Homo sapiens: one gene and its partners. The protein of the gene in region 6 purifies or fractionates together with the protein of the main gene of each other region. This does not show direct contact. Each region holds a gene or a part of one and is shown on either strand. Other genes may lie near its edges. The genes, in order: PPFIBP1, ATG2B, NUP35, PLEKHH3, ATL3, TACR3 and DSTYK.

Region 1 (3,500 bases), on a different chromosome or scaffold from region 6:
TTTGGGTCTAGCCCCATCTCTCTACCCTGGACCATGCACTCATTCCTTCCTCCCTTTTTCTTCTTTTAATATCCTCCTCTCTACCTGAGCCTTCCTCAAACCCAAGCTATCTACCATGTCTCTCTCGGATCAGTTCCTTGAAAGGATGAACTAACCAGGCCACCTGCAGTTCATCAGCCCCCGTGTAGTCCTCAATTTTTTGCATTCTGGATTCCAGGTTCATGAACTGACCTGACAGCAGGACCAGGGACAGTCTGTTGGATACAGCTTTGTAACGAGTCTGTTGCACTGGATGGCATGATTAGTTCACTTACGTTGTGCTTCTTCCCTTGGCCACCATCATCCTCCACTTCTCTGCAGATCCTGCTCTATCTCCTCTCCTAACTTCTTTTTTGCCTGACCATTTCTAAATATCAGGAGTCCCCTGAAGACTGTATGCTTGCTTCTCTTTTTACTCTACATACTCTTGTTCGGGGAGCTCAACCATTCTCACTCTTTACATAACAGCCCTATAGAGATGATCCATTAGTCCAGGCTTTGGCCTAAACTCCAAGCCTAAATTTCTAAATTCTTGCTTAACATCTTCATATGAATAATGTCAACTAACAGTTCATACTGGCTTTTAACACCCCAAGTACAGAACCATGCCAGAGGTAGGACTATGAAGAGGCTGAAGATACTGGCCCTGGAGCTGCACCTGCCTGAGTTCAAATTCTGAGTCTGACACACATGATCTGTGTGATCCTGGGAAAGTTACTTAGCCTCCTTGTGCCTCAGATTCCTCATCGTAATATGGGATTAATCTAGGTTGAAATATTTAAGGTGCTTAGAGTAGTGCTTGGTACATAAAAAGTATAACCTACCAGGTAAGTGTTACCTATTATTATTGTTATTCTCCTAAAAACCTGATAAGATAGGTATTATTATTTTATCCATTTATACAATGAGAAAATTAAGGATAATGTGGGTCATGATGGAATTTCAAACTCCAGATGTTCAAATCTTAACTCATATTTCCCATTAAAATTCAACTTTCACTTAGCCAGGCATGGAGGCATGTCCCTGTAGTTCCAGCTACTCGGGAGGCTGAGTCAGAAGGATTGCTTGAGCCCATGAGTGCACAATGATCACAACTGTGAATAGCCACTGCTCTCCAGCCTGGGCAACATAGCAAGACATCATCTTTAAAAGAAAATTAACTTTTGTATACGGGCCATTCTTGATTTAGGGTGTTCTGTCCTTCTCCCTCCCCTTGCCCATATACCCACTAGAAATACCCAATCTGCTATTTCCAGAGTCATTTTTATAAAACAATAGTTCCCTTACTTCTTCTTTTCTTAAAAACATCCTGTTTTAAGGTACAATCTTGTCACTCTCTTTAAAACCCTGTAAGATTTGCCCCAATATAGCTTACGTCTTTTCAAACAATATTGTTCTCTCTTTTCTCTAAATCGAATCTCACTCTATTCTACATTTTGCTCCAAACCCAAGTATGCTCATCTGTCCCCACTGCCTCCTCAAAATCTCCTCCCCACCCTTTAAGACCCAGTCAAATCCCACCTCTTCTAATGAAACCTCAAGAAACCCAGTCTCTTCCTTTGCTCTGGTGACTAGTCTAGTTCACAGAATGCTCTTCCCCAACCAACCTCCAAAAGGACCAATAAATAGATGTTTAAAATTTTAACATATTTTGTATTTCTCGAGTAATGTAATATAGATGTAATATACTGTAAAAAAAAAAAAAAATACAAAGTTCCCTTCATCCCAACTCCCATAAGCCATCCCACTTGGCAGTTTTTCATGCACTGACAAATGTAAACCATACACGTGTGCTTGGTTTTTTACTTCTTAAAATATATATAATAGACATCTGTACAAGTCAGTATATTCAATCTTTTTAACAGCTAAACAGTATTCTAAATCTGCATTTTATTACAGTTATGAATAAGGTGTGCCATCTCTTTCTGCCCCCATCTCCTGTATGTGAATACTCTTAAGGTAAAGATCATGTTTTGTTTGTCTTTCCGTCTCCAAGAGGATCTTGTACCAAGGCTGGGAATTGCTTAACACGTGCTTAATGAAATAGTAACAACAATATCTGTCATCAAAGCAGTGCATGTCGTGTGCCAAGAAACCAGCTGTTAGTGCTTCACATACATTATCAGATGTAATCTTCATAACCACCCAATTATTCCCATTTCACAGAAGACTTAACCAAAATCACACAGCTAGTAACAACAGGGGATTCTAATCCACATCTGTCTGACTCTGGAGTCCCCGCCCTTCATCCCTATGCTATAGTTAATAAAATTTTTATAAGGACATCCTTATAAACCAAAGCTGGAAAACAGAAGAGTTCCAAGTAGTCTGGTGTGGGCAGGTGGGAATGAGGATAAGAGACAGGAGGCGGAATAAATGCCAAGTAGATGGAGTCAAGGGATTGTAGCTATAAACCTACCGAGAACCTTCTAGGAGAAAGAGCTGAATTCTTTGCCTCCCCCTTTCAGACTCCCCACTACACTTCCCTTTGGTAACAGTGCCACCATTTGTTGAAGATCTTCCATGTGCTGAATATGCCATTATTATTCCTATTAATAATTTCTGGCCGGACGTGGTGGCTCATGCCTGTAATCCCAGCACTTTGGGAGGCTGAGGCCAGCAGATCATCTGAGATCAGGAGTTTGAGACCAGCCTGGCCACGATGGTGAAACCCTGTCTCTACTAAAAATACAAAAAAAAAAAAAAATTAGCTGCTCATGCTGGTGGGGACCTGCAATCCCAGCTCCCTGGGAGGCTGAGGCTGGAGAATCGCTTGAACCCAGGAGGTGGAGGTTGCAGTGAGCCGAGATTGCAACACTGCACTCCAGCCTGGGTGACAGCACGAGACTGTCTCAAAAAAAAATAATAATAATTTCTAATTATTTCTAATCCTTCAAAAAATGCTATGGCACATATATCAGAGCTACCATTTTATAGATGAGAAAGCTGAGACCCAGAGAGGTTAAGTTACTTGCCAATATTAGACTGTAATAAATAGCAAAGCCAGGATTCAAGTTGAGGATCTGCATGGCTCCAAAGTCCTGTTTTTCTCGTACAAAATAACACGTTTTTATTTTTAAAGAAAAGATGAACTATGATTTTTAGACATCTAGACTCAGTTAAGATCACATTTGGCTGCAAGTAACTGACCCAAGTTCTGTGGTTTAACCAAGTAGAGATTTTATTTTTCTCACAGAGTCAAGAAATGGGTCCAGTAGAGCAGTTGCAGAATGCTATCAGCTTCTCAGCCTCCTTCTAACCTTCCACCCACTCATCCTTAACCCTCAAGCATCTTGTCTTTGGTCACGCGATGGCCTGCTTACTTTCTCCAGGGAAGAAGTACAAAGAGCAAAAGGCTTAACAGGCAAGCTCACAGAGGCTTCCCCTTTTAAGAGCTTTGGGGAACGGGGCATCCAGCTATTTACATCTCATCAGCCAGGACTACTGTCACTGAACCACCT
Region 2 (3,500 bases), on a different chromosome or scaffold from region 6:
ATTTAACCTCACAGTAAACAGAAAGTTAGTACCCAATTTAGAGTAAAATAATGTATGTAAAAGCACCCACACAGTACAGTATATAGAGATGGAAGGTATTTAATAAATGATCATTATTATTTTCAAAAGTAAACTAAAACCCCTAACCTTGCTCCATGTTCCCCCTAGCCATCAACCCCATTTTCTCTGTCAAGGTAGTTATCTGCTCAAACTGCAAACTACAAGCGACCTTCTAACCCTCAGCTCCTCTGAAACTGCTTGTAACCACCATTAAAATGACAAATGCAATAAACAATATTTAGTCCTCATCTTTATTGAATTCTCATCTCTACCTAGTTCCTAGGACCACTCACCTTTTTTGAAATTCTAACTTCCCTTGACTTCTGTAACACTTCACTCTCTCAATCTTTTTTCTGATCCTTTACAATTTAAAATGTTGGAGTTCATCTAAGTTTCATCTTCGGCCTTTTTTGTTTCTCAAGCTGATCTACTTACTACCCACGCACTTTGTGCAGTTCCATCTCCTGCCACTGTTATTCACTATTGATACTCTGATAACTCCCATATCTTTACAACTGCAATCTTCCTATACGTATATTCCCAGTGCCTCCTGAGCTTCTCTACCTGGATCTAAAGCCCCCACATTCTAAAGCCCCCTCAAAAATCAATATAGTAAAACTTATTCTCTGTCCAATCTCAATCTCCTCCTCCCACTCCCAACTCCAGACAGTGGAGAAAACCTGCTCCTTCTCTAGAATTTCCTATTTCACCATCAACTAGGTACCACAAGTTACGGTCATCAAGGTTCTTCCCTCTACTTGTGTTTTTCAGATTTTTTCATAGTTTTTTTTTTTTAAGAATGTTTGACACATTCCATTAAAAAAATGGCCCATCATAAAAGACTTCAAAAGGTAAGTAGAACTGCTTGCTTCATGTATTAAGTATTTCCACAACTAAAAGTTTGAAACTTTTGTACCATATTGTTATCTCTGGAAGAGATGGGATTAAGCTCTATTACTTCATACCTCATATATTTCTTTACTGTTTGAATTTTTTGTAATGAGCATATATTAATTGTATAGTAAAAATGAACTATTAAAAACCTAACAGTGTTTAAAACATATGGAGGCAATGACTTAGCTTCTGCAAACTGTCAACCTTAGACAACTATGAGAGAAACGGGACTTGATGGAACTCTCTTCTCAGTAAACACCAAGTTTTCGTCCCAATTTTGTGGCAGAGAAGTTGAAATAAAGTTAAACCTCTAAATACAAAAAGGTTTATTACAGCAGTGAAGAGTAATATTAAAGGGGCCTGGTACGGTGGCTCATGCCTGTAATTCCAGAAACTGGGGGGGGCTGAGGTGGGAGGATCACTTGAGCCCAGGAGGTCAAGATCAGCCTGGGCAACATAGTGAAATCCGGTCTCTACAAAAATTAAAAGAAATTAACTGGGTGTGGTGGTGTACATCAGTAGTCCCCACCTACTCAGGAGGCTGGATTGGAGGATCGCTTGAACCCATGAGTTTGAGGCTGCAGTGAGCTGATCACACCACTGTACTCCAGCCTAGGTAACAGAGACTGTCTCTAAAGAAAGAAAAGGAAAAAAAGAAAAAAACTGATAAATGTTAACAGTTTTGGAGAGTCAACAGTTCCAGAATTTACATTGCACCACTAAGCTACAAAATAATTTCCCTAAGTATAAGATGTTTAAATAGGTTATATTTATGCCCAGTCTTATAACCACTTGAGCAAAATCCCATATATCTTGTAGCATAAGGTACCTTGAAATTCAGTCATTCTGGGAAAATCCAAGGCTACTATAGTATATGAGTAGTAAAAATTCTCAACCTACTTGGCTCAAGCAACATTTTCCACACCAGTCCTATGAAGTGTTTCCTCACCAGTCCTATCAAGTATTTTTTTTTTTTTAGTCACCACTATGCTAACGAGAAAATAACTCTTAAACTAAAAGTGGAGACACCTGAACTACTCAGCAAATAAATGCCCCACCATAGAGTCCTTTAGAGCTTTTTATTCTTCTGTTTAAGGGTATTTTGCTTTCAATTATCATCAATGAGTTTCACGCATATAAACAGAAAAAGTGAAGGTAACACTCTAGTCTCCAGGTGACCTTTGACAAATAATCAGTAATCAATGTTTCTTGAACTGAAGATAATTTTATTAAACACCAAGAGAATATAAGCAGCAATCGAAACATTCTTAAACTGAAGTTAAAAGGCCTCAGTGGCCAGGCGTGGTGGCTCACGTCTGTAATCCCAGCACTTTGGGAGGCCGACATGGGCAGACTGCTTGAGTCCAGGAGTTCAAGACCAGCCTGGGCAACATGGCGAAATCCCGTCTCTACAAAAAATACAAAAAGTAGCCAGGTGTGGTGGCATGCACCTGTAGTCCCAGCTACTGCAGGGAGGGGAGGAGAGGTAGGAGGATCGCTTGAGCCTAGCAGGTTGAGGCTGCAGTAAGCCTAGATCACGCCACTGCACTCCAGTCTGGGTGACAGAGTGAGACCCTGTCTCAAAAAAAAAATAAAATAAAAGGCCTCAGTGTAATAAATTGTTAATGTGTATCTTCTTGAGCTCCTGTAAGAAAAGGGTCTTTGTTTAGTTCACTGCTATATCCCCCAGCCCCTCACAGTGGCACATGCTAAGAGCTCAATAAATGTACTGAATCGATTAATGAAAGAAATTCCATTTAAAAATCAAAAATAAAGGCACAGTCATAGAGTTAAAAAGGAATGAGTCATTAAATCCAACTTCCCACCCCAAATAGAATTTCCTCCTTTCAACATTTTGCCATTTCAACCACTTCTAGGGACAAGGAGTTTATGAAATTTTTAGACAGTCTATTCCAATGATGGAACAATCCCAAACCCCTTGCCTCTATTTCTCCCTCCACTTCATGCCACGTTTAAGGTAGTAATCTCCAAAACTGGATGCATATATCCTAAAGTATTATCAGATGATTCATAAGGATGTGAGAGGAAAATGAGACATTCTATATTAAATTTTCCAAATTTAGATTGAAAAGTTGTACTTATATTTAATATACAAATGGGCACTGGCACCTTCCTTCAAGCCACATATCAAACTGGTACAAAGAGAAAACTAGTAGTTCCACAACAGAGAAGGATTAAGAGTGGTGCCCTCAGTTGGATGTTCCTTCCACTTCTGCACACTGAAACATTTCCACATACATTCTATAGAATAAAACCAGACCTTTAAACAGTAGAATCTTTGTAAAGAGAAAGTGAATGGCAATTACCTTCTGGTTTCCTGGTTTCTCCTATGGCCAAGTGTTTAAGGGTTGGATTTAAAGATAAGCATTTTCCTTTTACACAGAGAAGAATTCTCCACTGACTATTTATGTATTTATGACAATGACTATCAGTAGTACATGCTACCTAGCAGATATTTTCCAAAAAACAAAACATACTTAATCTGTCTTTTCAAAATAAAGATAGCACTTTAATAATGAGTAAGA
Region 3 (3,500 bases), on a different chromosome or scaffold from region 6:
ATTTAAAAAACTACAAACAAATATCAAACTCTAGTTAATGACATGCATGCTCAAGTGTCAGGGTAATATGTATTGATGTCTACAACTTATTATGAAATGTACCAACAAAAAGAATGAATTGATAGATGGATAAATGACAAAGCAAATGTAGCAAACTGTTAACCATAGAACCTAGGTGGTAGTAATATGGGTGTTTGCTATGCACTTCTTTCCATTTTACTGTATGTTTGATTATATTCATTATAAAATGTTAGGGTGGGGTTTTTAAAAGGCAAATGGTCTGCAAACCTTACCCAAATACAGTCACCCAAGAGTCATCGAGGTGATCTTCTGAAGTCAAAGAATCTCCTTGAGTATAAAAAGGATCCAACTGGGCAGGAGATAATGTCGTCTTTCGTGGCTGACCGATACTTGCTGGACTAAACATACTTTGCCCTATATTAGTATATTTAGCAAGTTAGTTGCCAGTGTAAACACCTCGATTGATTCTAAATCAAAAATCTTAGTTTTAAATGATAAAGTCTAATAAAGTTGGCAATTACATAAACAGTTCAAAACATACAACTGTGGTCAAATAGCAATTTCATGCTACCATACAATTAGAGGAAGTAATAATTGGGCATAGTTTATAATTCTGCAAATGTTTTATTATGTATGATAAATTATCTAAATGTTTTATTAAGCATGTCTGGTTAAGCTGACACCAGAAGGATATCCCAGGCAACCTCAAAGACTTCTGTTGGTTTCATCTTCCAAACCTACCACTTTCATCACAGCACCTCTGCCTTAAGAACATGTAAAAATGTATTACCCACAGAACAAAATCCGAATGCCTTGGCCTCAGCTATACAGTTGCAACCTTACTTTTCCAGTATGCACTAAACAATATCTACCTTACCCCTTAAAATGTGAATGCAATTTTCTTTTATTCAGGTCATTTCTTTCTAAAATGTCTTATCCTTTTATTTCTTATTCTTCAGTAACAGCCACCAATTGAGTACTTCTGTGTGTCCAACATGCCATGCTAAACACTTTATAAAGTTCATTTTATATCAGAAGCAATGTCCAATTAAGGCTATACATTTGAGAGAAGCAAAGACTATTTCCCTTTCATCTTCACAGTAGCAATAATGATTTACTCATTCAAAACATATTTTATCAGCACTTAAATATGCACCAAGCATCAACCTAGGTATTGAAGGTATAGCAGTAAACACATTAGACAAATAAAAACAAAAAATCCATCCCTATTGGAGCCTACATTCTAGCGAAAGAGAGACAAATAAGTAAATACTTAATGTGCTACAAAACTAAAAATCCTACAGAGAAAAAAAAATAAAGCAGAGAAGGGAGACAGGGCCAATTTGTGTGGGTGGGTTAAATGAAAAAGGATTTCACTGAGGTGCATTAAAGCAAAAACCTGAAGGACAAGGGAAGCAAAACAATATTTGAAGAAGTGAACATTTTGTGGAGAAAATAATAAAACAAAGGCCATGAGGAAAGACATGATTGGTCTTAGATGAACGCAAGAAGGCCACTGTTTGCACAGTGAGGGGGATGTGAGATGAGAACAAGGAGATGCGAGCAGAGAGGCAGCAATATGCCGGATCATGAAGAAAAACCTTATAAAGCCACTGTAAAAGCTAAAGCTCTAAGCGAGGTAGAAAACCAACAGAAAAATCTGAGCAAGCGTGACATAACAGGACTAAAACTTTGATAGTAAAAGGTAGCATTTTAAGGGCCAGGCCAGTGGCTCACACCTGTCATCCCAACACTTTGGGAGGCCAAGGCGAGCGGATCATGACGTCAGGAGTTTGTGACTGGCTTGGCCAACATGGTGAAACCCCATCTCTACTAAAAACACAAAAATTAGCCAGGTGTGGTGGTGCATGCCTGTAATCCCAGCTCCTCTCAAGGCTGAGGCAGGAGAATCGCTTGAACCCGGGAGGCGGAGGTTGCAGTGAGCTGAGATAGCACCACTGCATTACACCCTGGGTGACAGAGAGACTCTGTCTCAAAAAAATAAAAAAATTAAAAAAAAGGTAGCATTTTATTAAGTGATTATTACACTTTACGAGTGTAATTTTATTTAATTCTAACAATCCTACAAAAGGTCCAATTAGTCCATTTAACAAATTAGGAAACAGGATAATATTAAATAACATCCAGAAGGTTAGTTGGAATTCCAATCCAGGCAATCGGAATCCAAAGCATGAGCTCTGAGGCAGTAATCTAGTTAACATGTTTATTTCCTGTGGCAGTACTACAAGTGTGGTCTGGAGATTCTTGGCTCCCCCAGGACTCTCTCATGAGATCAGCCAACTCAAAATTATTTTCACAAAAACATGAAGTTTCATTTGCCTTTTTCTCAGTCTCTTATTAGTGTACAGTGGAGTTTTCCAGAGGCAACTTCATGTGATTCAACAGACTCAGGTTGAAAAGAGAAGCAGATTCATGAGAATTCACAGGTATTTTATTAAGCCAGACACTAAAAAGATTTTTAAAACAAAAACAATGTCACTCTTCCTGCAAATCTTTTTTTCTTTAGAAAATAGTTACTGTTCACTTCAAAAAAGATTATGTTTATATGAAATAGCTTTATTTTTAAATGAGTTAATACTTAAATTTTAAATTTTGTTTTAATTTTGAATGCAGTAAATATTGATAGCTATAATCTATATAAACAAAAGCTCTTTAATTTTTAAGAGTATAAACAAGGTAAAAACTACAAAACTAAGACATTTGAGAACCACTGTTCTACAGGTCAATGCGCATGAGTCATGCTCCATTTTTATTGATTTTCTAGAGGCTACTTAACATATTCTAACTATTGTATGTATCTCCTGACTTGCCATTTATCCTTAATTCCCAAATGAGTTGAAAACCATCCTAACTCATTCCAAAGTGTTTATAGTCACATGGATTTCTCCAAGTATGTTCTTAAGAAACAAAAAAGATTATCTATAGAAGGTGGGGGGAAAAGCTACTGTGATAAAAAGCTTGGCTTTGCACTGTGGCTCGTGACTGTAATCCCAGCGCTTTGGGAGGCCAAGTTAGGAGTTCAGGACCAGCCTGGGCAACATGGCAAAACCTTATCTCTACTAAAAATACAAAAAATTAGCTGGGCGTAGTGGTGTGTGCCTGTGGTCCCAGCTATTTGAGAGGCTGAGATGGAAGGATCACTGGAGCCTGGGAGGTGGAGGTTACAGTGAGCCAAGATCATGCCACTGCACTCCAACCTAAATGACAGAGTTTAAGACTCCATCTCGAAATATATCTATAGATATATTTGATAAAAATAACCTGTTAAAGAAGTGGGCAAAGAACATGAATAGACATTTTTCAAAAGACATACAAATGGCTAAGAGGTATATGAAAAAATGCTCAACATCACAAATCATCAGAGAAATGCAATTCAAAACTACATCATCACCTTACCCTAGTCAGAATGGCTATTGTTAAACAAAAAAACAAACAGATGCTGGCGAGGATGCAGAGAA
Region 4 (3,290 bases), on a different chromosome or scaffold from region 6:
GCTGCAGAAGAGGAGCGGACGAAGCGCTAGGGAGAAGCCGGACCCCTACGGCGAGGGCAGCTTGGGGTGGGGGCGGGGCCATGTGTTTGGGGCGGGGCCTGGGCGGAGCCGACAGCGGAGGTGATGCTGCAGTCGGACTGCAAACCTGCGGCGGGCAGGTCCGTCTGTAAACCAGCGAACACCACAGCGCAGGGCCAGGGGCAAGCGCTGGATAATGTCCGCTTAGAGACTGACCTCAGCTGAGAAGTGGATGGGCTAATAGAGAGCAGGGCTGGGGCTGGACATTTACTTCTCAAACCTGGTGAGCACGTCGGCCACGAGGGTCCCCCCAGCCAGGGCTCGCTCCTGGGCCCCTCGCTGCTCGTACAGCGCGAATGCGTTGCGGCTCCGGGCCAAGCCCAGCCGCCCCACCAGCTCTCGAGCCACCTAGAAGAGGAGGGTGAGGGGAGACCACTCAGAGGTCTTGCCAGGATTCTGGGAGGGGTTGATTCAATTGGAAGGGGTCTCTTAGTCCTGTCACCACCACTCCCTCCCTTACCAAAATAATCTAGACTCGGGGCAAACCTAGGGTCCAGGAAGAGGGAGAGACAGGCGTGAGAAGCTGGCAGGGTGGGTTGGAGGTCATGGGGCCTTTCTCTGGCCTCACCTCCCCCGCCGTGGTGTGGGAGTCGATGGCCACAGCACAGGCACCAGCCCCCGGACAGTGCACGGTACACAGCAGCTCCTGCCGTTGGCTCAACGCGGAAATCTCCGCCAGCGAGGGCACCAGCTCTCTGCCGCGCGTCCGGCCCAGCGCTTTCCGGATGAAGCGCGCATATTCCGCCAGTTCCGAGTCCGGGAGTGCCTGCTCGGTCCTGGGTTAGGAGGAACCCAGGGATCAATACTCCAAGGGCTTTCTTCTCCCCCTCCCTCTTGCCTGCTTCTCTTATAGTTTATTTTATCTAGCCGATTTCCTCCCCGCCCCAACTCAAGTTCTTTGAAGGCTCTTCTAAATCTCTCCCCAGTGCTTTGCATAGAGCTGAATTACTTTTCAAGTCCCCTGGCAGCTTTCTCCCAACTGCCTCCACCACTTCCAAAAGTCTTCGTGATCTTCCTTCGGCCTGAAATCGAAATCCAGCCACTTTACTACATTTTCCTAAGCCCTGGCGCTGGCCTGCATCAGCTGGAGGAAAAGCAGCCTTTTCATAACTCCTCAGCCCAAGGGGGGCGTTTTATTGTAATTCATCCGCTCACAACTGCGATAGGATCTTGTATCTCCCACAAAGGCACTGTATGTATTACTCGGTTCTTTACCTACCAAGTCTTTTGCAAAAGACCTTTCATTCTCTCCCAGCCCGGTAGCTCCTCGCCTAGGCCGTAACCCCCACCTCGCCCCTCTCACCTCTCCAAGTGCCCCAGGAGGTGCCCCCGCACAGCTCCCCCAGGTCGGAAGGTGCAGCTCATGCAGGTGAGGAGTTGCCAGTACCGCAGGGCCGCAGGGTCTTGGGTAGCCGGGAGCCCGGGGGGACCTGCAGGGCCCGAGGTCTGCTTAGCCAGCTGCAGGAAGAGTTCATCCCGGAGCGCGGGCAAGTCCCGGCAGGTTTGGAGCACACCCTGCATCAAGGGCCCGGGGCGCCGCGCCCCCTCCAGCGCCTGCAGCGCCAAGAACAGCCGCACCGCCTCCTCGCGCAGGGGTGCATAGCCCGGACCTGTGGGAGGGTGGGGGCGGAGGGACGGTTTGGAGAGGGGACACAGAGCTGCGCCCTGGGAGGAAGGCATGAACCAGGGGAAGGTCAGAGGGAATATAAGGGGATGGGGTGGCAGGGAGGGGAGGGTACGAACGACAGGAAGAGTGAAGGGAAAGCAGTGGTCCCACGGAGCCAGACTCTCAACCTCTGCCTCCCAGGAATCCCCTTCCCAATCCCACTAAGCCTGCATTTGGACTTAGGGAGACGGACGGCCGGGAAGGGCTGTAGATTCACACCCCAGATTCTGTAACTCCATACTGAGGCTCACCACCATAGGTCAGAAAACAGGCTGGACTAGGAGTCAGAAAACCGGGGTTCCTCTCCCAGCACCCTTTAATCCTCTAACTTTAGGACCTGGGCCAGTCACTACACCGTTTAGGGAGAAGTACAGTTGGATGAGGCCAGCACATTCTACAAAAGTGGTAGCTTTTCTACCACTTGTAAAGGTAATATGGCATAGTCTCAAGAGGATAATGAAAAAATAGGGGAGTGTACAAACTCCTGAAGGAACATCAGTAGTCAGAATGAGACCCATAGAGAAGGTGGCCAAAGGGGGCCCTTTTGTGTGTGCTGGCTTCCTCTCCTCCACCCTGGCCAGCTTCCAGTTTCACCTTCATCCTTCGAAAAGTGAGGAGCTGGCAGGTCCATGAAGGATGCTTAGATCCCTGCCAGTTAAGGGATTCAGATTCTTACCTCTGAACCACCCCATCCCATCCAGGGGACTTGGGCCATGGGACCACTCACCTGGGGCGCTGACTCCATAGGGCAGGGGCAGGAGTGGGGCATACAAGGCTCCACTAGTGTGTCTCAGAATCGGGTTCCTCAGGTAAATGAGGGCAACGGCCTCTGGGTCCCCGCAACTTTCCTAGGGGGCCAGGGAGAGGGTCACCTTGATGGGGAAGGGAGTTCCTCACAACCCCAGAAAGCTTTGGGGTCCACCACTCTCCTGGCTCTCCCTGGTGTGTACCTGTATGTCCCTGAGCAGTAGCTGGGTGGGGGTCTCCAGGGGTGCCTTGGAGGCGATCACTTCCCGCAATGCCACCCCCCAGCGCTCAGCCTCTGCCTGGCGTGGGGAGCAGAGGCGGACACTGTGTTTCCGACCAGACACAGTCACTGACCACAGACCTGGGGAAAAGAGAGGCCAGGGAGGGCCATTAGGGTCTGCCGGGGCCCCTGCCTAGGAAGGTAGGAGAGTCCCCAGGAGGTCTCACCTGTCTCCTTACGCCTGCGCTCTGGGCCGGTCACCGAGCACAGGCTGGTGAGCACGAGGCTCCCGAGACGCCGCGCCCCTTTCCCGCTGCTGCTGAACTGATCCAGGGAGTCCCGCGTGAGCACAAACCAGGCTCGGCGCGGGGGCAGCCAGGGCCGCGCCCCTCCTCCGCGGGGCTCCCGGTACAGCCAACCTGGGGGCCGGAGAGGGAGGGAAGGGACATCAGTAGAGACATTAATCCCTAGGGGGTTGGGATTGGGGGCCTCCAGAGTGCACTGAGGGGGGTCTCTACCTTTCACAACGATGTCCGGGTCGTCCTCCGGCAGCCCTTTCTCCGGGATGAGGCTCCAAGT
Region 5 (3,500 bases), on a different chromosome or scaffold from region 6:
GACGGAGTCTCGTACTGTCGCCCGAGCTGGAGGACAGTGGTGTGATCTCGGCTCACTGCAACCTCTGCCTCCCGGGTTCAAGCGTTTCTCCTGCCTCAGCCTCCCAAGTAGCTGGGATTACAGGCACCCACCACCACACCCAGCTAATTTTTTGTATTTTTAGTAGAGACAGGGTTTCACTATGTTGGCCAGGCTGGTCTCAAACTCCTGACCTTGTGATCTGCCCACCCTGGCCTCCCAAAGTGTTGGTATTACAGACGTGAGCCACAGCACCCGGCTGCCACTGGCTTCTTTAATTGGTTAAGAGCACAAAATGTAACAGGCAGAAGGTCTGTTTCAAACAAATTAAAAAGCTATGTGTTTTTTAAATTCTCCCCAAGTTGGATATACACACACCCACAAAAATAGTGTGTGAAGGAAAGCTGTCATACACAGTAAGTTGTATCCTGAATTATTCAAGGAAACACATGTTGAAATAGGAATTAACAGAGTCAGCAACAGATTAATATTTTTTAACTGAGTCTAAAAATGCTACATAGCCCTAAGGAATACTACATAAAGTACTGCTAGGTACAAACAAAAAAGTCTGTATAGCTTTTAGCAAAAATGTTTTTCCAGAAAAGAAAATTAAAATAATGCAATCAGCAGACCAAGGAGACTACAGCTAGACATCAGAGCTACAACTTCGCATACCTGTGTCAGAAAATCCTATTTATCCACAACAGACTAAAATTTCAGGACAAAACAGGGACTTTTTAACTTTTCTTACTTTACCCATTTTAAATTCTTTGATAAAAGGTTTTTAATTGGGTTAACACAGTACATGCTGAAGTTCATATTTTGTTGTTGTTGTTGTTAATCTGTAAGGTCATTTTCATCCTTACCTTCTTCCCACCTGGCTTCTCCACAGTGAAAACTTCACTCCAGATTTGAATCCCAGTGGTTTCTGGATCAGATCCCCCTCTCCAGGAAAATCCTGTTAACGGTTCTTCTGGGTCACCCAACCAATTTGAATGGCCACTTTCCTTCTACAGAAGTAAGAAATTTCTATTAAATCTTAAATTAAAAATTTTATGCATCAAGGATAATCTATGAGCTTATTTCGCTTTTTTGGACATTAAAGTCTCACTTTTTACTTGAAATAAAATAATTCTATCTTACCTGAGAATATAAGTATCGTAGCATAAAATCCAGAATGAAGGACTTGCCCTTTCGGAAGGCACCAGCCACTGAAACCACCACCACATCAAGATCTCGGATGTGGTCCTGCAAGAGGATGCTGGCCAAGGCTTTCTCATCTAGCTCAAAGGAATGTTGATCTTTCTGAACCAAAACAACCTGCACTGGACCAGGCTTGCTGCTCTCCATGGCATCATCTATGTTCATGCAGAGAAAAAAAATCAGTGTCAAATATTTAAAATATGTTTTTGAATATAGGGAAAACAAAAACTTCTTAAACAGGGGACAGGGCCAGGCTCAATGGCTCATGCCTATAATCACAGCACTTTGGGAAACCAAAGCAGAAAGATTACTTGAGGCCAGGAGTTTCAGACTAGCCTGGGAAACGGTGAAACCCAGCGCTATGAAATTTAAAAAATTAGCCATATGTAGTGGTGTATACCTGTAGTCCTAGCTACTTGGGAGGCTGAGGCAGGAAGACTGCTTGAGCCCAGGGGTTTGAGGTTACAGTGAGCTATGACCACACCACTGTACTCCAACCTGGGTGACAAAACTAAACAAAACAAAAAACGGACACAAAAATACTAACCATAAAAGGGCAGGGCACAGTGGTTCGCCCCTGTAATCCCAGCACTTTGGGAAGCCGAGGTGGGTGGATCACTTGAGGTCAGGAGTTCAAGACCAGCCTGGCCAACATGACGAAACCCCATCTCTACCAACAAATACAAAAATTAGCTGGGTGTGGTGGCACGCACCTGTAAGTCCTAGCTACTCGGGAGGCTGAGGCACGAGAATAACTTGAAACTGGGAGGCAGAGGTTGCAGTGAGCCGAGATCATGCCATTGCACTCCCACCTGGGTGACAGATAAGACCCTGTCTCAAGTTAATGGGTGCAGCACACCAGCATGGAACATGTATACATATGTAACTAACCTGCACATTGTGCACATGTACCCTAAAACTTAAAGTATAATAATAATAAAAAATAAATAAAATAAAATGTTGTTAAAAAAAAAAAGACCCTGTCTCAAAGAAAAAAAGTACTATCCATAAAAGAAAATAAAATGACAACACAGACTTCATTAAAATTAAAAACTTTGTTCACTTAAAGACTTCAATAAGTAAAAATGCAAGCCATGGGCTAGGGAAGAGTATTCACAATATCTGTTTCCAAAGGACCCACATCCAGCATCAACATAGCAATCCATAAGAAAAAAATAACAGGCACTTTGTAAGAAAAAGATATACAAATCCTATTAAAAGGTACTTCCATATCATTACTTAACAGGGAAATCTAAATTAAAACCACAATAAGATACCACTACCTGCCCATCAGAATGGCTAAAATTTAAAGACTGACAATATCAACTGTGGGACAGGGTATGAAGCAACCGCAATTCTCACACATTCTGATAGGAGCACAAAATACTAAAGCCACTTCAAAAAACTGTTTGGCTGTATCTACAAAAATTAAATATATCTGTGATCCAGCAATTCTACTCCTAGGTATACACCTAAGAGAAATGAATGCCTATGTCCACCAAAAAACATATATACAAGAATGTTGAGCTGGGCATGGTGGCTCGCACATATAGTCCCAGCTACTTGGAGAGCTGAGGCAGGAGGATTACTTGGGCCCAGGAGTTCAAGACCAACCTGGACAATATTGCAAGACTCTATCTCAAAAACAGAAAGTTCATTATCAGCTTTACTCAAAACAGTCCAAAAGTGGAAATAAAACAATGTCTATCAATAATAGTGTTTGCCACTGCTAAGCTTTATTTAGATATATATATACACATATATATATATTATTTAATCCTCAGAACAACTCTTTGATGTAAATAATACTGCTCCATTTTAAGAAGAAGGAAATGGCCAGGCTCAGTGGCTCACATTTACAATCTCAGCACTTTGGGAGGCCAAGGCAAGCTGATCACTTGAGGTCAGGAGTTCAAAACCAGCCTGGCCAACATGGTAAAGCCCCGTCTCTATAAAAATACAGAAAAAAAAAAAAATTAGCCATGCGTGGTGTCGCACGCCTGTGGTCCCAGCTACTGAAGAGGCTGAGGGAGAAGAATTGCTTGAACCGGGAGGCAGAAGCTGCAGTGAGCCGTGATCGCGCCACTGCACTCCAGCCTGGGTGGCAGAGTGAGACTTGGTCTCAAAAAAAAAAAAAAAGAAGGAAATGAAGGCTTATGAAGGTTCAGCATATTGCCCAACAGGTCCTAGATATAAGCTCAAAAAGATCTTTAGGTGGTTGTATTTTGCATATCACTAGTAATAACTCAAAAAGTTTTAGAAGCTATTAATTCTATAGT
Region 6 (3,500 bases):
CAGGAGCACCCAGATTCATAAAGCAAGTCCTTAGAGACCTACAGAGACTTTGACTCCCACACAATAATAATGCAAGACTTTAACACTCCCCTGTCAACATTAGACAGATCAACAAGACAGAAAGTTAACAAGGGTATCCAGGAATTGAACTCAGCTCTGCACCAAGTGGACCTAATAGACATCTACAGAACTCTCCACCGCAAATCAACAGAATATACATTCTTCTCAGCACCACGTTGCACTTATTCCAAAATTGACCACACCGTTGGAAGTAAAGCACTCCTCAGCAAATATAAAAGAACAGAAATTATAGCAAACTGTCTCTCAGACCACAGTGTAATCAAAATAGAACTCAGGATTAAGAAACTCACTCAAAACTGCTCAAGTGCATGGAAACTGAACAACGTGCTCCTGAATGACTACTGGGTAAATAACTAAATGAAGTCAGAAATAAAGATGAGAACAAAGACACAACATACCAGAATCTCTGAGACACATATAAAGCTGTGTGTAGAGGGAAATTTATACCACTAAATGCCCACAAGAGAAAGCAGGAAAGATTCAAAATTGACACCCTAACATCACAATTAAAAGAACTAGAGAAGGAAGAGCAAACACATTTAAAAGCTAGCAGAAGGCAAGAAAAAACTAAGATCAGAGCAGAACTGAAGGAGATAGAGACACAAAAAACCCTTCAAAAAATCAATGAATCCAGGAGCTGGTTTTTTGAAAAGATCAACAAAATTGATAGACTGCTAGCAAGACTAATAAAGAAGAAAAGAGAGTGGAATCAAATAGACGCAATAAAAAATGATAAAGGGGATATCACCACTGATCCCACGGAAATACGAACTACCATCAGAGAACACTATAAACACTTCTACGCAAATAAACTAGAAAATCTAGAAGAAATGGATAAATTCCTGGACACATACACCCTCCCAAGACTAAACCAGGAAGAAGCTGAATCCCTGAATATACCAATAACAGGCTCTGAAATTGAGGCAATAATTAATTGCCTACCAAACAAAAAAAGTCCAGGGCCAGATGGATTCACAGCCAAATTCTACCAGAGGTACAAGGAGGAGCTGGTACCATTCCTTATGAAACTATTCCAACCAGTAGAAAAAGAGGGAATGCTCTCTAACTCATTTTATGAGGCCAGCATCATCCTGACACCAAACCCTGGCAGAGACACAACAAAAAAAGAGAATTTTAGACCAATATCCCTGATGAACATTGATGCAAAAATCCTCAATAAAATACTGGCAAACAGAACCCAGCAGCACATCAAAAAGCTTATCCACCATGATCAAGTGGGCTTCATCCCTGGGATGCAAGGCTGGTTCAACATACGCAAATCAATAAACATAATCCAGCATATAAACAGAACCAATGACAAAAAGCACATGGGTTATCTCAATAGATGAAGAAAAGGTCTTTGACGAAATTCAACAACACTTCATGCTAAGAACTCTCAATAAATTAGGTATTAATGGGATGTATCTCAAAATAATAAGAGGTATTTATGACAAACCCACAGCACATATCATAATGAATGGGCAAAAACTGGAAGCATTCCCTTTGAAAACTGGCACAAGACAGGGATGCCCTCTCTCAACACTCCTATTCAACATAATGTTGGAAGTTCTGGCCAGGGCAATCAGGCAGGAGAAAGAAATAAAGGGTATTCAATTAGGAAAAGAGGAAGTCAAATTGTCCCTGTTTGCAGATGACATGATTGTATATCTAGAAAACCCCATCGTCTCAGCCCAAAATCTCCTCAAGCTGATAAGCAACTTCAGCAAAGTTTCAGGATACAAAATCGATGTGCAAAAATCACAAGCATACTTATACACCAATAACAGACAAACAGAGAGCCAAATCATGAGTGAACTCCCATTCACAATTGCTTCAAAGAGAATAAAATACCTAGGAATCCAACTTACAAGGGATGTGAAGGACCTCTTCAAGAAGAACTACAAACCACTGCTCAATGACATAAAAGAGGACACAAAGAAATGGAAGAACATTCCATGCTCATGGGTAGGAAGAATCAATATTGTGAAAATGGCCATACTGCCCAAGGTAATTTATAGATTCAATGCCATCCCCATCAAGCTACCAATGACTTTCTTCACAGAATTGGAAAAAAACTACTGTCAAGTTCATATGGAACCAAAAAAGAGCCCGCGTTGCCAAGTCAATCCTTAGCCAAAAGAACAAAGCTGGAGGCATCACGCTACCTGACTTCAAACTATACTACAAGGCTACAGTAACCAAAACAGAGATACATACCAATGGAACAGAACAGAGCCCTCAGAAATAATATCACACATCTACAACCATCTGATCTTTGACAAACCTGACAAAAACAAGAAATGGGGAAAGGATTCCCTATTTAATAAATGGTTCTGGGAAAATTGGCTAGCCATATGTAGAAAGCTGAAACTGGATCCCTTCCTTACACCTTATACAAAAATTAATTCAAGATGGATTAAAGACTTAAATGTTAGACCTAAAACCACAAAAGCCCTAGAAGAAAACCTAGGCAATACCATTCAGGTCATAGGCATGGGCAAGGACTTTATGACTAAAACACCAAAGGCAATGGCAACAAAAGGCAAAATTGACAAATGGGATCCAATTAAACTAAAGAGCTTCTGCACAGCAAAAGAAACTACCATCAGAGTGAACAGGCAACCCACAGAATGGGAGAAAATTTTTGCAATCTACTCATCTGACAAAGGGCTAATATCCAGAATCTACAAAGAACTCAAACAAATTTACAAGAAAAAAACAAACAGCCCCATCAAAAAGTTGGCAAAGTATATGAACAGACACTTCTCAAAAGAAGACATTTATGCAGCCAAAAGACACATGAAAAAATGCTCATCATCACTGGCCATCAGAGAAATGCAAATCAAAACCACAATGACATACCATCTCACACCAGTTAGAATGGTGATCATTAAAAAGTCAGGAAACAACCAGTGCTGGAGAGAATGTAGAGAAATAGGAACACTTTTACATTGTTGGTGGAACTGTAAACTAGTTCAACCATTGTGGAAGACAGTGTGGCGATTCCTCAAGGATCTATAACTAGAAATACCATTTGACCCAGCCATCCCATTACTGGGTATATACCCAAAGGATTATAAATCATGCTGCTATAAACACACATGCACATGTATGTTTACCGCGGCACTACTCACAATAGCAAAGACTTGGAACCAACCCAAATGTCCATCAATGATAGACTGGATTAAGAAAATGTGGCACATATACACTATGGAATACTATGCAGCCATAAAATATGATGAGTTGTCCTTTGTAGGGACATGGATGAAGCTGGAAACCATCATTCTCAGCGAACTATTGCAATGACAAAAAACCAAACAGCGCATGTTCTCACTCATAGGTGGGAATTGAACAATGAGAACACATGGACACAGGAAGGGGAACATCACACACTGGGGCCTGTCATGGGGTGGGGGGAG
Region 7 (3,698 bases), on a different chromosome or scaffold from region 6:
GTCAGGCACTGCTGAGCAAGCAAATCTCAGCACTGGGGTGAGCCTAAATAGAAAATGCAAAATACACTACATGCAGATAGGCCAGCGTAAGATTATGTGCCCAGTTCCCTCACCATGTATTATAATAGAGTAGCTAGGCTCATATATGAACTCACAATGCTGCAGGTTCGTGCTTAAAAGAAGCTGGAAAAAAGCATGTCACCCAGGATAGGCTCTGGAAGATACATGACTATCATCTCACCCCTTTTCTCCACTATCCTATCTCCCATTCCCTTGCCCCACCCTTCAGTAGTGATGATGTAAAGTACCCAGAGGCCAAGAGCCATGGTGGCTGGGGAGGGCCCCTGATGGGAGAGGAACATGTTCCATCCATCTCTCCTAAGGCAAACTGAAAGACATCTGACTGAAGGTCACCAGTGGAAATGGAATGGATTAGGGAACGTCCTGTTACTATGGGTAGTGAGGTAAGGGAAAACCAAAACCAAACAGATAGAAACCTAAAACGTTAATGTGATCTTTATTATACAGCACATCTGGTATTTGTGTATCCCAACAAGTATACAGAATACTCTATAAAACCAAACCCAACCCTTCAATATTACACTAATGAAGATTAACCCAGAGTCGCATCTCTTCAAAATGCACACAATTAAGACGGTCCTGCTGTAACAATATTATGGAAAGAGCCAGGTAGCACAAGAAAGGAGAGAGGATAAAGACTGAAGTGTGTGCCAAAGTCATTGTCTTTTGTTATTGCACTTTTATTCTACACACTTAGTATCTTACACTTTTATTTAACACTGTAATAAACATTAGTCCTTTAAAACAAAGAAAAAACATTACATGAAGACAAAAGACAACAGGCTGCCCAGACCAATTTTCTTTTCAACTATCTGGGCAAGGTGGCCTCCCCAGTGCTAGATGTCCTGATGCACCTCTGAGATCACCTCAATTGGACTGGATGTTAACAAAACAGATGAAGTTAAAAATGAAACCCTTTTAGGAACAGTAGTGCTACTGGAAACCTCCAGGAGAGTTTGGAATACAAGTGTCTCAAGGCCACTCCCTCCTTACCCACTTTAACATCAAACAAGCTCTATTCATCCCACCTCCATAACTGAAGGATTAACCTTCTTTTTCTTTTTCTTTTTTTTTTTTTTGAGATGGAGTCTTGCTCTGCTGCCCAGGCTGGAGTGCAGTGGTGTGATCTTGGCTCAATGCAGCCTCTGTCTCCTGGGTTCAAGCAATTCTCCTACCTCAGCCTCCTGAGTAGCTGGGACTATAGGTGCCCGCCACCATGCCTGGCTAATTTTTTCTATTTTTAATAGAGACGGGGTTTCACCATGTTACCAGGCTGGTCTCGAACTCCTGACCTCAGGTTTTAAAAAGTGGGTTACTTGATCCAGAAAATCCAAAAGCTTTGGAAATTCCAGGAAAGCAACTACTCTTTTGGCAGTGGACTCTTCCAGGGTTGTTAATCCCACTCTGACACAATATGGATGGACTAGGGAGGCTTCCTGATTATCCAAATGGAATACCAAGCATGCCATCATCTCTCCAAAGCAAGCCCAAAGGGGGCTTTAACTTCCCAAAGTGCTACTGTAATCACCAATTCCCCTGGGCCTCCCAGTGCTAAATAATAAGCCAAAGCCAAAAAATAAAGTGTCATTCAGTGCAGTTGTCACTTTGCAGCCCTGCAACCCCGAGGCACTTCTTCCATGAGGAAGAACACTTTGTGACCCTTCTTTGGCAGCTCAAGCAAAGACACAAGAATGCATTTGAGAGCTGACAGGTACTAGTCGAGAGTTCTATGAGTCCCCTATTTCTATCTGTGGTAGTAATGCATTCTTTCCTCCACTGCTTCCTTGAATTTTAGTGTTAAAAATTAGGAGAATCTGCTGCCTAGGCTCTGTCCCCTTGAAGTTGATGGAGTCAAAAGTGACTCTCTTTGGTCTGGGAACAACCAGCACAGTCCTCCTGAAGCGCTTGCTCAGTCAATGAGCTACTCTTTGCAGAGGATCAGGGAACTAAGGTATGCCTGGGGAAACCCCACCCAAATGAGCCATGCCAGACAGCCCTTGCCATCAGCTCTCTAGGCACAGGGTCAGCCATTCCAGGGCCCCAGGCTCCACCATTTCTCCTGACTGCTCTGCAGGAAGGCCTCTCACTCATTTCTGAAACAAAATGAGAGACCAGACTTCAAGCTCTGGCCATTAAAAATGGCCAGGTCATCATTTTCATGTTGGGGTAAGCTGCCCTAATTATGTTGATTAGAAGGACAGACCACAATAAGGGTCATTCTTTCATGCCATCCTTTTTCTTCCTCCAGCCACAATCTCACCTCACCACTTGGGAACACATACAACCAAAGCTGGGAGGTAAAATCTTTAGGACTTTGGTCATGCTGAGCCCTCTATAACCCAAGTGCTGCCAGACTTCTTTGAAAACCTAGTGTCCTCCCAAGTAATATACAATACAGTACATTTCATGGCATTCCATCACTTATAATAAGAATGGATGCCAAAGAACAAAGCCAAAATTAGCTGACAATGTTATAAAACAAAAGCAAAGTATACACACTCTATACACACGTATACCTGCACTCAGCCTGCTGAGTATTTAAATAACATCCCCAAATATCCATATGTGGACTTTGGCTGGCCTAGAGACTTTCAAGAATATTTTGCACCTTTTCTCAAAATACTTTTTTTTAAAGAAAATGAACTGTAACACAACTACTCATCTCCTTACTTATATCAGTCCCTCCCTTCCACCCTCCCCACTGGGGAAAAAACTGTTGGGGAATCTGCTAGAGAACTGGTATCTGACAGCAAACTAAGCCGTGGGGTAAACTAAAAAGGGACTCTGGGTAGAGGAAAAAAATCTAACCTCCCATATGTGAATGAGAGTATGAGCTAATACTTCCCAAGAATGCTAGGAATGTGACCTTCATAATGGAAGCACAGACTTATGATTATAGTTAGAGTCAAAAGAAAACAGTCTGGAAAGGGAACTATATAAGACTTTTCCTAAAATTTCATACACAACAGACTTACAATGATTTTCCAGCAAGTAGAGAGTACTTACCCCTCCTTTCTTGACACCTGACTCCCTTGAAGCCCCATCATAGTTCCCAGAAGGACAGTAAGTTAGTGCAGAGAATAGAGTACTTGAAGTATAGCTAAATAGGTGGTAAAAATTCTGAGAATATACTGAACATCCTACCAAAACAAGGCTAAAGCCTGCAGAGCCCAAAGACACTGAGTCAGTTACTTTATCATTTGCAAGTAAAAAGGTTATTAGCACTACATGGAATTTCTGAAAGGCTCCAAGAGTTTAGGGAGCTACTATGCTCAAACATATCATGATCAGAGCCCAGGATAGCCAAAGAGTTAAAAGTTATATGAAAGACCCATTATAGACTCCATTTATACTCCATTAATATTTAAAAGATGGTCATTCTGTCATAGACAACCCTAGAAAATCCCAGCAGCAGATGTGCGACTCATCTTTGTTTTTTGTTTTTTTTTTTGTTTTTTTTTGAGATAGAGTCTCGCTCTGTTGCCCAGGCTGGAGTGCAGTGGCGTGATCTCGGCTCACCATGACCTCTGCCTCCCGGGTTCAAGTGATTCTCCTGCCTCAGCCTCCCAAGTAGCTGGGATTACTGGTGCGTGCCAGCATGCCCGGCTAATTTGCAA

What was found.
Region 1: the proteins of TACR3 (region 6) and PPFIBP1 purify together in Homo sapiens (affinity purification with mass spectrometry; one large-scale study listed by BioGRID and IntAct). This does not show direct contact.
Region 2: the proteins of TACR3 (region 6) and ATG2B purify together in Homo sapiens (affinity purification with mass spectrometry; one large-scale study listed by BioGRID and IntAct). This does not show direct contact.
Region 3: the proteins of TACR3 (region 6) and NUP35 purify together in Homo sapiens (affinity purification with mass spectrometry; one large-scale study listed by BioGRID and IntAct). This does not show direct contact.
Region 4: the proteins of TACR3 (region 6) and PLEKHH3 purify together in Homo sapiens (affinity purification with mass spectrometry; one large-scale study listed by BioGRID and IntAct). This does not show direct contact.
Region 5: the proteins of TACR3 (region 6) and ATL3 purify together in Homo sapiens (affinity purification with mass spectrometry; one large-scale study listed by BioGRID and IntAct). This does not show direct contact.
Region 7: the proteins of TACR3 (region 6) and DSTYK purify together in Homo sapiens (affinity purification with mass spectrometry; one large-scale study listed by BioGRID and IntAct). This does not show direct contact.

Annotation. Positions count from the first base shown.
Region 1 is NC_000012.12:27,530,706-27,534,205, reverse strand, and holds part of PPFIBP1 (liprin-beta-1), read right to left. Parts: intron 1-3,500. UniProt on the Homo sapiens protein: May regulate the disassembly of focal adhesions. Did not bind receptor-like tyrosine phosphatases type 2A.
Region 2 is NC_000014.9:96,356,842-96,360,341, forward strand, and holds part of ATG2B (autophagy-related protein 2 homolog B), read right to left. Parts: intron 1-3,500. UniProt on the Homo sapiens protein: Lipid transfer protein required for both autophagosome formation and regulation of lipid droplet morphology and dispersion.
Region 3 is NC_000002.12:183,148,443-183,151,942, reverse strand, and holds part of NUP35 (nucleoporin NUP35), read right to left. Parts: intron 436-3,500; coding exon 294-435; intron 1-293. UniProt on the Homo sapiens protein: Functions as a component of the nuclear pore complex (NPC).
Region 4 is NC_000017.11:42,670,705-42,673,994, forward strand, and holds part of PLEKHH3 (pleckstrin homology domain-containing family H member 3 isoform 1 precursor), read right to left. Parts: coding exon 3,230-3,290; intron 3,131-3,229; coding exon 2,939-3,130; intron 2,853-2,938; coding exon 2,695-2,852; intron 2,593-2,694; coding exon 2,472-2,592; intron 1,689-2,471; coding exon 1,382-1,688; intron 855-1,381; coding exon 647-854; intron 427-646; coding exon 290-426; intron 2-289; coding exon 1-1.
Region 5 is NC_000011.10:63,657,877-63,661,376, forward strand, and holds part of ATL3 (atlastin-3), read right to left. Parts: intron 1,377-3,500; coding exon 1,162-1,376; intron 1,087-1,161; exon of another isoform or gene 1,029-1,086; coding exon 885-1,028; intron 1-884. UniProt on the Homo sapiens protein: Atlastin-3 (ATL3) is a membrane-anchored GTPase that mediates the GTP-dependent fusion of endoplasmic reticulum (ER) membranes, maintaining the continuous ER network. It facilitates the formation of three-way junctions where ER tubules intersect.
Region 6 is NC_000004.12:103,709,986-103,713,485, forward strand, and holds part of TACR3 (neuromedin-K receptor), read right to left. Parts: intron 1-3,500. UniProt on the Homo sapiens protein: This is a receptor for the tachykinin neuropeptide neuromedin-K (neurokinin B). It is associated with G proteins that activate a phosphatidylinositol-calcium second messenger system.
Region 7 is NC_000001.11:205,142,005-205,145,702, forward strand, and holds the end of DSTYK (dual serine/threonine and tyrosine protein kinase), read right to left. Parts: 3' UTR 501-3,698; downstream 1-500. UniProt on the Homo sapiens protein: Acts as a positive regulator of ERK phosphorylation downstream of fibroblast growth factor-receptor activation. Involved in the regulation of both caspase-dependent apoptosis and caspase-independent cell death.